Homo sapiens: one gene and its partner. The protein of the gene in region 1 interacts with the protein of each later gene in a pairwise test. Each region holds a gene or a part of one and is shown on either strand. Other genes may lie near its edges. The genes, in order: RAC2 and AFG3L2.

Region 1 (3,812 bases):
TCCTGTCATTCAGTTCCCTGCTTAAACATCGCCTCCTTGACCCCCTGTCTACAGCAGCCCCCCGTCTCCAACCTGCCCTCTCCATCCCACCACCCTGCTTGGCTGTCTTCATAGGCCCCCCGACAGCCCGACTTCATCTTGCTGCTCCTTTGCTGCCACTCCTCCTCTTGGATGGAAGCTCCCTGAGGACGGGGCCCTTATCTGCCTCACTCCCTGCCATCGCGCCAGTTTCTAGAACAGAGCTGAGCCCATTCCTGTTGCTCCGTCATGACTGCCTCCCCGACCCCGGGGAGGAAGGCAGGGCTCAGCTCTGCATGGAAGAATGTGTGCTGCTAATTGAGGTTGAATCATTTGGCACTTAATTTTCACTTTCATTTGAAATCCTCTCTTCGGTAAACTGGCGAATCCAGCCTGGGATTCCAGTGGACAGGATGACATCAGCCTCCCTAGCTGTGTGCGCCAGGCCCCACCAGGTTCTGCCTGGCCTCTCGGCAGCCCCATCCCTGCTCCTGCCGCTGTGTGTGTGGGTGCCTCATGATGTCCAGTGGCTCAAGCCTCTGCCTTAGCTCAGGCACCCCTTCTGTTGGGTATTCTGTTCCCTCCTGCTCCACCTCTCCCTGCCCCGTGACACCTCCAGCTGCCTTCATCTTTCAACCAATAGCACGGTAAGGGCCTCCCCTCCTGGCTGATGTGCCAGTTTCCCCCTCTGTTCCCCTCTGGCCCCTCCCTAAGACTTCTCCAAGAGGGTCCCTCCCTCCCTCCCTCCTTCCCTCCCTCCCTTCCTCCCTCCCTTCCTCCCTTCCTTCCTTCCTTCCTGACGGAGTCTCGCTGTGTCACCAGGCTGGAGTGCAGTGGTGCGATCTCGGCTCACTGCAACCTCTGCCTCCCGGGTTCAAGCGATTCTGCTGCCTCAGCCTCCCAAGTAGCTGGGACTACAGGCATGCACCACCACACCCAGCTAAGTTTTGTATTTTTGGTAGAGACAGGGTTTCACCATGTTGGCCAGGATGGTCTCGATCTCTTGACCTGGTGATCCACCTGCCTCAGCCTCCCAAAGTGCTGGGATTACAGGCGTGAGCCACCGTGCCCAGCTGGGACCTTTTATAAATGCAAATCTGATCTCATCACCTCTGCCTGGCTTGGCCCCTTGCTGGTTCCCCATTGCCCTGAGAACCAAGACCTGACTGGTCCGTGCCCCTATGACATCAATCCTTTCTCACCCCCAAGTCACTAGCCATGCGTGCCCTGTGGTCTCTGGGTTCCTTGAATGCACCATCCTTCCTCCGTGGGGGTGGGCTTCGGTGGTGGTCAGGTGATACCTGGGTGCTGGGGCCCCTTCCACCTGCCCCATTCCCCTCCTCCACTCCATTCTAGGGCCAGGCCTCAGAGTTCTACAGGCACTAGATGAAAACATGGTCTCTGCTCTCTCCAACTCCATTTCCAGCCATGAAATAGCAGCGATGCTTACCATGTGGGCCTTTCTGAATTGGGTAACAGGATCTAGCCTTGCTCTGCCACCCACTGGCTGGGAGATCTTGGGCAAGTCCCTTCCTCTCTGTAAGCCTCAATTTCTTCATCCGGAAAATGGGGTGAGGGTTGCCCATGGTGGTCTGTGCATAAGGTTCCTCTCTGGTCCTGGCTGCCTGTGGGTCTCTTAAGTAAGGGGGACCCTCAGGGGTGTCACACCATTGACACATTCCTGCACCTGTCCCTCTGGTCCTCTGGGGAGGGGCCCTGTGGCAGGGGCATTTGGGGACATGGAAAATGAGACTGCTTAGCTTCTCAGCATCTCCCAGTGGGGTGGCTTGAACATCCTCTGTTTTTTTGGATTCTCCTAATGGCTCCAAGAAATAGGTATTTTCCCCTCCACATTAAAGAGATTGAGGCTCAGAGAAGTTAGGTCACTCACCCAGGGTCACACAGCCAGGATGTCCTGGCTTCCCAAGGAACTCTGTGTTCCCGCCCAACAAGAAAGGTCCTTGACCTCTTCAGGCCTCAGTTTCCTCATCTGTCTAATGGGGGTAACTTAAGATCCTTTTGTCTTGGATCACATGAGACTTCAAGACCTAACATACAAAGACCCTCAGCCCCCTGCCTGGCCTCAGAGAAGGTGGCTGTTGCTTCTCAAGGTCCCAGCTCTTTCCCCATCACCGTGGCCCTGAGATTCCAGGGATGACCCAGAGGAGACAGGTGAATCTTGTGGGGCTTCTTGGCACTAGCACTGTGGCTGGACATTAGAGGAGAGAGTGTCCAAGCATTTCCCAAAAGTGTGTTTCTGGTCAAAACTGGAAAAACAACACAGGTGTGGCTTTTCCCATCATGCCTCACTGTGTCTCCCTGGACAGCGCCTTCTTCCTGAAATCCCACAGCAGTGTAGGTGGTACCCAGAGTAGGTGCACGCCAGCACCTGCTGTGCACCAGACCGCGGGCTGGCCCCAGGGTGCAGCGGCAAACAAATGAGGCTTAGTGCCTGCCACCTGGGATGCTGAGTTCCCCAAGGAGTGCTGGTTTAGGTGGGGTGGTAGCCCCGACATGGCTGGAAGTCAGGAAAGGCTTCTTGGAGGAGGTGACATTGAGCAGGGGCTGGAGGGATGAGTAAAAGTCAGCCAGCCTGGCAGTGGGGAGGAAGAGAAGGGAGAGAGGAAGGAGAGTGGGAAGTCAGGGGCCACTGTTTGCAGGCACTTTCCAGACAGGCGGGAACAGGGCCGTTTGAGGAACTGAGAGGTAACCAGGAATTCTGTCCAGGGCTGGACAGGCAAAGTGTATTAAAAAGGCTGGGCTGCCCACTTTTTGGGGGTGTGGGGGACTCCTCTCAGGAGAGGTGTCTTTTGTGTTACTCTGAAGTGTTAGCGCTTCTGCAGCCTAACATTGAGTAGCGTTCTCTGAGGACTTCCTGGAGGAGGTGGTTTAATTCCCTTCCACCTGCATTCACTGGGTGACAGGCCTGAGACTGTGGAGAATAAGCAGGCATCGGCCTGGCCCACACAGAACCCACAGCCCTTGAAGGGGTGGAGACTCACCAAGTGCCTGCTCGTGGTCCAGGCAAAGTAGTCACCTGAGAGAGGGAACCATGGGCTCTTTACAGGTAGAGGACGACGAAGCTCCGCCAGAGAGGAGGACTTGTCTGGGCAGGGTTTTGAAGCATGAATAGAAGTTGGGAGTGAAATGGGGCTGGAAGCGTATTCCAGAGGGAGATACAGACAGGATCAAAGGCTTGGAGGGCTGGGCAGCCTGGAGGGTGTGGGGGCCAGAGACCAGGTTGGTGAGAACATATGGACAGCTAAGGTGGGAAGGACATTCTGGGCAGGGGCTTTGTGTGGACCAGCACAGGGAGGTGGGCAGTGTGAGCCTTTCCCGGGAAACGGCTTGGCTGGTGTGCGAGGGGAGGAGTAGGAGGAGAAGTCAGAGGAGCCGGAGGTCTCAGTGGACCAGGTCAGGGCCTGTGTGGGGGACCACAGCGGGAAAAGTGACAGTGATTCCCTAACCCTCAGGGGCAGGCGGTGAGGGCATTCCCGGAGGCACAGCTGTGGCCTGGGGCAGTGAGCACTGGTCGTGGTCACTGGTTTCTGGTTTCTTACCTAGTTGGGTCACTCACTGGCTGTGTGGCCTTGGGCAAGTCACTGCATCTCTCTGAGCCAAGTTTTCCCTTCCACAGCGTGGGTAGCCAGCACCTTCCTCGCGGGGATGTGTGTAGCAAGAACTGGCTTGCAAAACCTCCCCTATTCCGAGCTTGGAGCCCTGGGATGGCCCTCCCAGCATTCGTTGGGCTTCCCCGTCTCTGATATTTGTCAGGCCCCTCACCCCGTGTCTGG
Region 2 (3,812 bases), on another chromosome or scaffold:
CAGCCTCCTGAGTAGCTGGGATCACAGGCACGCGCCACCATGCCTGCCTAATTTTGTATTTTTAGTAGAGATGGGGTTTCTCCATGTTGGTCAGGCTGGTCTCGAACTCCTGACCTCAGGTGATCCACCAGCCTCGGCCTCCCACAGTGCTGGGATTACAGGCATGAGCCACTGTGCCCGGCCGATTTATTTCATTTCTTATTCAGAGAATACATAATATTCTCTGGTCAGGTGACTCTCTTTCTGTTTTTGCCAAGGTCCGAGACTTATTTGCCCTTGCTCGGAAGAATGCCCCTTGCATCCTCTTCATCGATGAAATCGATGCGGTGGGAAGGAAGAGAGGAAGAGGCAACTTTGGAGGGCAGAGTGAGCAGGAGAACACACTCAACCAGCTGCTGGTGGAGATGGATGGTGAGTGGTCAAGGCTTTTGTATCTTTAACTGCACTTTTGTTTTTTTTTTTGAGATGGAGTCTGACTCTGTCGTCCAGGCTGAAGTGAGTGGTGTGATTTCGGCTCACTGCATCCTCTGACCCCTGGGTTCAAGCGATCCTCCTGCCTCAGTCTCCTGAGTTTAAGCTGCACTTTTTATGCCTTTCATGTCCCCAAAATGAGAGTCCTTATTCCAATATTGAGTATCACAAACAAAAAAAAGCATTCCCTAAAACAAACAGCTCTTTTAAAAGGCCCTTTTATACTAATACAAATAATAGCAAAATATTTTTTCCTGGCAGCCTGCATAACTTAATATCGGTGTTAACATGCTGTTTGTGTCTGGTGTTTGAATAAGAGAAGAATTGGTGAAATGAGTCACAAAAGAATTACCATCTCATTCTCTAAATCATCACCATCTCTGAAGCATAAGGAAAATCTAAGCCTAACCAAGTGTGAATTTAGCAAATTTTGAATACTTTTTTACTAAGAGAGTAGCAGTCTTTCCATGCTAGCCAGCTTTTATTTCATTTAGGAAAGCCACTTCTCAGGATGTCATGTGTTCTTCCTGCTGGAAGATAAAAATGTGGATGCTTGGTTGTTTGTGCAGAAAGGGGAAGCACAGTGCCAGTACTGAACTGGCTTCAATGATGAAGCCAGGCATAGGGGCAGAATAAGGAGGTAGAAAGCCTCCTCCGTCCCGCGATGGTCAGCCCCTGTTGCGTTCACATTGGAGCACCACATCTGAGGGAAATTCACCCAGGAGCTCCTGCCGTGCCAGGGTCCTGAGGGTGAAGGGCCTGGGACCATGGCATTTACACTGAGAAATGGGCAGTAACACTGAGCCATTTGAGTGTGGAGAAGAGGTGGGAGGTAGAGGTTGATCTCTGCCTTCAGATAGGCAGTTGGTTGTCCTGTGGCCCAGGGTGTCAGACACATCCTTTGCCAATTTAATCTGATTTTAAGACATTTTTAAAATTGACATTATCTGTTAAATTTCTAGTTAAATTTAAATATTTGGTCATTTGTCTTTAGGAAATTTACTCGTAAAACTTTTAAGTCTAATATATGATTATTTTCAAGGACGAGCTGAATAGTAAAAAAATAATTCAAGTTTGTAACTTAAAAAACACTGGATAGGCCAGGGGCGGTGGTTCACGCCTGTAATCCCAGCACTTTGGGAGGCCCAGGCGGGTGGATCACCTGAGGTTAGGTGTTCGAGACCAGCCTGACCAACATGGAGAAACCCTATCTCTACTAAAAATACAAAAATTAGCCAGGTGTGGTGGGGCATGCCTGTAATCCCAGCTACTCGGGAGGCTGAGGCAGGAGAATTGCTTGAACCTGGGAAGCGGAGGTTGCAGTGAGCTGAGATCACGCCATTGCACTCCTGCCTGGACAACAGGAGTGAAACTCCGTCTCAAAAAAAAAAAAAACAAAAAACACTAGATAATGAATAGAAAATGTGTTTACTGTAGCTATGAATTTGCAGTGCTCATATGTTCCTGATGGTGCACTGTTGCTTTCTGCCTCTTGTCATTTAATAGTGTTTGCATTTTTGTTATCTTTCAGGTTTTAATACAACAACAAATGTCGTCATTTTGGCCGGCACCAATCGACCAGATATCCTGGACCCCGCGCTGCTTAGGCCGGGGCGTTTCGACAGGCAGATCTTTATTGGTGAGATGATGTTTGCTGGGGCAGGTCCAGTGCTCATGAGTGTAGGTGTGACTGTTTCAATATGATTTTCTTTTCCTTAAAAATGATTTCTAAAGGACCACCAGACATAAAAGGAAGAGCTTCTATTTTCAAAGTTCATCTCCGACCGCTAAAACTGGACAGTACCCTGGAGAAGGATAAATTGGCAAGAAAACTGGCATCTTTAACTCCAGGGTTTTCAGGTGAGTGGAAAATAACGAGGACCCTATTTAGAAGCATATTAAAATCAGTAACAGTTACCAGGTACCGGTTTACTTTCTTACCTTTTCACTTCTTTACTGTGGGCTTCCTAAGTTTATATTCTCATTTTTATTTTTTTTGAGACAGGGTCTCACTTAATTGCACAGGATGGACTGAGTGGTGTAATCATAGCTCACTGTAGCCTCAACCTTCTGGGCTCAAGTGATCCTCCTGTCTCAGCCTTGTTTGTAGCTGGGACTACAGGCATGTACCACCATGCCCAGCTAATTTTTTGATTTTGTGGAGACAGGGTCTTACTTATTATGTTGCACAGGCTGGCCCGAAACTCCTGGCTGTAAGTGATCCTCCTGCCTTGGCCTCCCAAAGTGCTGGGATTATAGGCATGAGCCACTGTGCCCGACTATTTTTACTTTGTTATTATGGGAAATTTCAAACATACACAGATTTTGAGGAAATGGTGTAATGAACCCATCTGTACCTGTCACCTAGTTTCAGGAACAATTACTAATTCACATCTGACCTTACTTTTATCTATACCCTCTTCTCTTTCTGCTTCCTCGGGAGTATTTTGTGAAAAATTCTTGACAGTGTATCATTTTTTTCTATAAATATTGTAGGAATTATTCCTAAGCGTTTTTTTAAAAGCTCTATTGAAATAAAGTTAACTAAAAATCACCCGTATAAAGTGTACAATTAATGGTTTCTAGTATATTTACAGGGTTGTACAACCATCACTATAATTTTAAAACATTTTGGGCTGGGCACGGTGGCTCACACCTGTAATACCAGCACTTTGGGAGTCTGAGGCAGGTGGATCACCTGAGGTCAGGAGTTCGAGACCAGCCTGGCTAACATGGCAAAACCCTGTCTCTACTAAAAATACAGAAATTAGCCGGGCATGGTGGTGCATGCCTGTAATCCCAGCTGTTCGGGAGGCTGAGGCAGGAGAATGGCTTGAACCCAGGAGGTGAGGTTGCAGTGAGCCTAAATCACCCCACTGCACTCCAGCCCAGATGAGAGAGCAAGATTCCATCTCAAGACAATCAAACTTTCTGTCTCTCTAGGTTTTTTTATTCTGTACATATTATATAAAAACGTGGTTTTGGCCAGGTACGGTGGCTCACACCTGTAATCCCAGCACTTTGGGATACCAAGGCAGGTGGATCACCTGACGTCAGGAGTTCAAGACCAGCCTGGCCAATGAGGCGAAACCCTGTCTCTACTAAAAATACAAAAATTGCCGGGCGTGGTGGTGGGGGTGCTGTAATCCCAGCTACTCGGGAGGCTGAAGCAGGAGAATCGCTTGAACCTGGGAGGTGGAGGTTGCAGTGAGCTGAGATCACGCCATTGCACTCCAGCCTGGGTGACAAGAGCAAAACTCCACCTCAAAAAAATAAAAATAAAAACATGTGGTCTTTTGTGCCTGGTTTATGTTCACTTAACATAATGAACAGGATTGATT

What was found.
Region 2: the proteins of RAC2 (region 1) and AFG3L2 interact in a two-hybrid assay, tested with the Homo sapiens proteins (one large-scale study listed by BioGRID and IntAct).

Annotation. Positions count from the first base shown.
Region 1 is NC_000022.11:37,234,190-37,238,001, reverse strand, and holds part of RAC2 (ras-related C3 botulinum toxin substrate 2), read left to right. Parts: intron 1-3,812. UniProt on the Homo sapiens protein: Plasma membrane-associated small GTPase which cycles between an active GTP-bound and inactive GDP-bound state.
Region 2 is NC_000018.10:12,349,604-12,353,415, reverse strand, and holds part of AFG3L2 (mitochondrial inner membrane m-AAA protease component AFG3L2), read left to right. Parts: intron 1-257; coding exon 258-411; intron 412-2,002; coding exon 2,003-2,110; intron 2,111-2,205; coding exon 2,206-2,331; intron 2,332-3,812. UniProt on the Homo sapiens protein: Catalytic component of the m-AAA protease, a protease that plays a key role in proteostasis of inner mitochondrial membrane proteins, and which is essential for axonal and neuron development.